Linked DNA regions of Homo sapiens: region 1 is linked to region 2. Evidence: fine-mapped expression QTL. A gene starts in region 2. The other region holds a variant in brackets. All regions are shown on one strand. Distances are between the middles of the regions. Region 1 overlaps LINC02268 (long intergenic non-protein coding RNA 2268). Region 2 holds the start of LINC02268 (long intergenic non-protein coding RNA 2268).

The links. PIP is the estimated chance that this variant, and not a neighbour inherited with it, causes the effect.
Region 1: its variant is fine-mapped to the expression of LINC02268 in sigmoid colon (GTEx, PIP 0.95).

The regions. Positions count from the first base shown.
Region 1 is chr4:174,121,744-174,124,678 of GRCh38, forward strand. All of the region lies in intron 1 of LINC02268 (long intergenic non-protein coding RNA 2268), which reads right to left. Among named protein-coding and RNA genes, the nearest start is that of LINC02268, 97 kb to the right of the region's middle. The variant C/T (reference allele first, on the strand shown) is at 1,666.
Region 2 is chr4:174,218,790-174,221,724 of GRCh38, forward strand. It overlaps LINC02268 (long intergenic non-protein coding RNA 2268), which reads right to left and starts at 1,609. Exons shown (of 5, transcript NR_125896.1): 1 at 1,525-1,609.

The sequences.
Region 1 (2,935 bases), 97 kb before region 2:
AGTGATTCCCCTGCCTCAGCCTCCCGAGTGGCTGGAATTACAGGTGCCCACCACCACGCCCGGCTAATTTTTTGTATTTTTAGTGGAGACTGGGTTTCACCATGTTGGCCAGGCTGGTCTCGAACTCCTGACCTCGTGATCCACCCACCTCGGCCTCCAAAAGTGCTGGGATTACAGGTGTAAGCCACCGTGCCCAGCCATAATATTTTCATTATTCCAAATGTGATGGAAAACCCATAACACTTAGCTGATGCAAATTGTTTAAAAAGTATCAGATACATAGATGAAAAGTCTTTTTAGTCAGATATTTGACTTTCTCTGCAGCAAAGCCTTGCCCCTCACCCTCAGCCCCAGCCAGCTGAGGGAAGAGTAATTAGCTCTCCAAAGAGAATAAGTGGTTAATGCAAGAACATGTTTATTTGCTCTAAGAAGACTGTCTTAAGGTTATATTCTCTACCCAGATTGCATCTTCACTGTTGACAACACAGTGTGTCACAGATGAAATTATGCTTGGGGTAAAATTAGTATTTCCTTCTCCAAACTGGAGATTAGAAAATAAATGGGTCAAGCATAGGAATGGGATAGTACACACATTAGCATTCTATGAACACACAGAGGGACTGGCAATTAGATTCATGGTAAATATTGCTGACATTCCCCTGATGCAAACTCACAAATATAAGAGAGAGAATTTTCTAGAACATGCTTATCAATGTATTTGTTTCTTTGTTCAACTCCCTTCTTAACATTGTCCAGACATCCTTTAAGCCTCCAACCTCCCCCAAAGACATGCATACAAACATATCCAAACACTTCATTTTTTCACGCAGTACCTTATAACACCTCTATTTAAGCCTTTAAATGATATGTTTACTTGTCTTTCTATCTCACTAGACTGTTAATTACAGCAGGCAGGGACCTTTTCTTTGTTAAACTTAGGACTTACTACTATGACTAGCATATAGTAGGCACTTTAACACCCTTGATTGAACTGAATGTACTGTGTTAATTTAAACAGTGCATTATTAATACTGGGACCAGATGAGTCTATCTTCCTCCTATGTCTCATTGCTAAGGAGCTGTGGATTCTCAATAGTAGAGTGTCACAAAGGGAGCAGCCTCTACTTCATTTGGAACTATTACAAAACATTGCTTTCCTCATGCTTTTTTTAGAGTATGGACAACAAAATTCTTTTCATACTGTTATGAAACACTTCTGATAGCTGGGCAACAGCTAGGAAGTCTCTTCAGTGAGGCCAGAGGCAAGAATCAGAGGATGTTATTCCCTTCATTTCCAGCGTATTATGTGGCAGGACAAAATTTTAAATTTCCTTCAAACACTTCATTCCTTCCCTTCTTCACCCATAGTAAGGAAGAACTTTTAGCATAATGACACACTGAAGTTAAACAATTAGACATGGTAAAATTTAGAGAAAGATGTTTGTTTCATTGTCATTGATATTTTTACTGTTCGAATAGTTCACTCTGGAAAAATCTCCAAAGACAACCTGAGCTTGTTCCTAGGATGAATTTATCTATTCCTATAAATGGAGCCAAGAATAAAAGTCTCAGAGCCTTTGACCTTAGCATGTTACTAAACAGAAGCCAGGACCTTGGAGCAAGGGATGGAGTAGGCAGATGGGTAGAAAAAAACAGGAGAATGGC[C/T]CCTTGACTTCTGTTTGAAGTGAACTCTCTGAACTAAAAGGTGCTGTGATGGAAAAACACTTGGCAGCACTTTCCAGATTCTATGCATCTTTATAATAAGCAAACATTAAGATTATTTTTCAGTAAAATCATCTTTCTGATAATGGTCTATATCCACATATCCTTCCAGATGTTGGAGGAAATAATGAAGTGATTACAGTCACTGGATTTCTAGACAAAGCTGAATGAACAGCAATCTTGGGGGGTGGTGTTTATTAAGGCATCAGCAAGTTTAATATGGAAGGAAGGGAGCCATTTCACACTTTTCTATCCAACTAGTAGCTAGCTTGTCTGACATTAGGTTGCTTGTGGATGCATTGCTTTGTCAAATATTTTTAGAACTTTAAAGGAAAGAGCACTTGTTGATTCCTCAATTGGATTGTCCACAGCTTGAAGACAAGCCGAAGACATGGTGATATTTATTGTTTCCTTCTATCTCCTCTGCAATCTTAACCTTCCACTGTCATCCACAGATAGTATTTCTCCCCAAAACAAATTGTACATGTGGATAAACTCTTGAGTTTGTTGTGCACAGAATGATGCTAATACTGGAAGGAGTTTAAAGAGTGCAGCAGGGTGGTAGAAAATATAACTGTCATGATGAAATGTGGAGGTAATTAAGGCAAGTGTAAAGAATTACAATTTTGTGCCTGATGATTTTTAAATAATAATAATAGTCACTATTTACCGAGCATTGATCAGGTGCAAATTACCATGCTAGATCATTTTCATATGTCACCTAATTTCATTCTCACAAACACCCTGTAATATTGAATATTACTAGCCTGGACTGGAGGGACTGACTTGCCCAAGGTCACTCTGTATGTAAGTGGCAGAGCTGGTACTCAAACCTGGATCTGTCAGACCCCAAGTTCCTGATTTCAGCTTCTACAAAGAAAAACATTTTCTGTGCTTCACCAGGAGTGTGTTTTGGTTGTTTGTTTGTTAGTATGTGTATCTATTTATGTGAGAGGGATTGTAGTTTTACTCAAGATAACTTAAGAAATGTGACAATAGAGATAGATACGATATTCCAGACAATGTAAAGAATGTCATGGTAAGGTCCCAACAAAATATTTTTAAATCAAGGGTATATTTCGCCATATTTTTTACTATAGGACCAAGATTCATTTTATCTGGGGATCCAAATATTCATGGCTCTATTTGTATGTCTCACAAACCTGGAGCTTGATGAGTCCAAAACAAAGCACTAATTTTCTACATCCCATCC
Region 2 (2,935 bases):
GACGAAACTCAAAAATGGACAGCCCTCCCTTATTCATAAATATTACTTCAAATATGTTAAAGACGTTAAGTAATTTTTAGTCTCTTTAGAATTTCCAACGCTATAGTTTATTATGACAGATAAGGTTTGATTTGTGCTAGTCGCGTGCCAGGACACTGAAGGTGAAAAGAAGGAAAACAAGAAAGAGTTTCTAAAAGAATACACGTAACATTTAAGATAACTACATACAAAGTGCTCACTTAATTTCTCTTAAAACAGTTACAATGAATAAATTACATTTCCAACTTAATAAAATTTAATTCTCTTAGTCGTTTGTACAATTGATGGCCTTTGGTTATAAAATTTTACTTTTTGGAGAAATATTGCCCCTCTGTCAAATTATAGCACATGACAAATAATATAGCAAATAATAGGTTTGACTTTTAAACATACACAGTTATTTGAAACAAAATGTTTTTAACTTTCTGGCAGCATAGGCAAAACAGTAAAAGCACAGTTATATTTTAGGAATTATCTTAATACATTCCCCTCTATGATATCAGAACTTACTCCTGATTGAACCAAGGAAGAACAGCTAACTCTTCGGATAAAACAATTTTTTCTCCTTCATTCCCAGGCATGGTTTGGAAAGCAATAAATGCATATTTGCAAGAAGTCATGAAAAATCAAGATTAAAAATACTGTATAATCTTCCTGGTAAAACATATATACATTTTATATCTGACCATATGAAACTGTCATCTATAAGTATTACATTTTAATGAAGCATAACTCCTCATGATATATTTATTTCATAACAAATGGCAAAGGTAATATTACTTATCTTCAAGTATTTTTTCTTTTAAAAGCTCCTCCCACCAAATGAGAGACCTCTATTTAAACAGCAACTTCTATTGAAATATATGATCTGAAGGAATTCGCTATTTGAAAGTCTTTTGACAGCTTTACAGATTATATCTGTTGAGTTTTTTCTCTCTCTCTTATTTCCACAATTTACATGTGTGAATATATGGGTAACCCTCACTAACTTTTCAACATCAGTCACGCACATTAGGTAGAAAAAATTAATTTTGAAACTATTCTTTGTTTTTAAAATGATATATGTCATTACTGTTAGGTGAGTAAGCTAAGTGTGTTTTTTTGGAAGGGGAAGGTAGGTTAATCACAATGATAGAGCAAATATAAATAGTATTATGTTGTTGGTGTTAAAAGGCAAAACCTCTTAGTCTGTGAAGATCACCTACTTACCTTCTCTCCATTAAAAAAAGAGTTGAACTTTTTGGCTCCCTGTATAATGTGTGTTCTCCATAGATTTTATACTAAATATTAATATTAAGATTATAGAGCTAACCTTTTTCTAATGTCAAAGAGCTTTTGAACAATACAGGCACAAGAGAGAAAAGACACCTACCTCATACATTCACATCCCAAATTTCCTATCTCCAATGCAACAGGAATAATCTTTTTATTCCATTAAAATGGTCACTAACCTTATAATAATAAAGGCATGTTTTAATCTCTTACCTGAAGGAGTCTTATCAATGTAACAAGAACTGAAATTGTGACTGGTCCTTGTTGTCGTTTACAGTACAGAGATCTGTACTGTATTGCCTTTGTGGAGGGCTGAAGTAACAACATATGACTACTGCCTCCTGAGACCCTTATGAAAATAAGATATATAGCTGGTTCAAATAAATGTTTTAGGCCTTGACCCAGGAATATAATTGAGAAAAACAAATTATTTCACATACACTAAAACATAATTAAAATGTTATTCTAAGCTTTGCTTTTGTGTGTTATGTTGTATGTGCATACTAATGTTATCCTCAATCATAAAGCTATGTAAGAAATGATTGTACTTTTAAAAATGTTACGTAAACATCTTTTTTCCTAAAAGTGGCAAAAATTACCTTAGAAAGCAGTTACAGTGCAACTTTCACTTTTAAAGGTTTTCAAGATTGAATATTTTAATTCATAACATATTTCTCATTGTTAAAATTCTTTGGCTTCCTCATATCTGGCATTTAAAATTTTTCAGTTGTTTTGTAGACTATGTATGTAAGGTTGCATTTTTCACTGTCAACATAAAGTTATTGTTTGCTTTGGATTTAATATGTATTTGGATATGTATGCATATTTGTTTAAAACTATGAACTCTGGGGAGGGTTTTAATTCTATGCAACATAAGTCAGTTTTATATAATGAATATATACAACTTCAGCTAATAAAAAGTAAGATTTTAATCTTGACAATATATTCCTAAAATGCATTAAGATATTGTCAATCTAAAATGAGCTTGATTTGAGAACAAAAAGAATAAGTTCTTTTAATGAACTAGTGGTATATTGTTATATGTATATATGTTTTGCTGATTTTAGCAAGAAAATGGAAAATAATCCATAAGAAAATGGAAAATAATCCTCCTGCAAAAGAAACCTGAAGTGGATTACCTAATAAATTGTTTTCAGCCTGAATTTTAAGGTATCACGACATAGTCATGTTTGTTTTTTAAAATATCATTTTCAAAAATCAAAGACATTAATGGTATTCTCTATTTCAAAACTATGATCATTATTCTGCTTTTTGCCACCAATATTTATGCTAGGAGAAACATGTTTAAGAGTCATCAACACCTTGGGCTCATTGACCATACGAATGAGTCACATGGTCAAAATGAATAAAATGTTATTTAGAAAAAGGAAAAATATATATATATATTTATACATATGCATAGGTATTCTTTTTAAATGAATAAAAGGGCTTCATAATTTGGGACAGCAGAAAAAGGGAGTAGCAAGCATCACAGCCCAAAGCAAGAATGAAAGTAGCAATGGTGTCTAGACAAAGGAGCAAGGATATTTGCTTTTACAGTTAGTTTTATTTGGGATATCTTGGAAGAAAGAAGGGTAGGCTCTCAATGGCTAAATTAAATTAT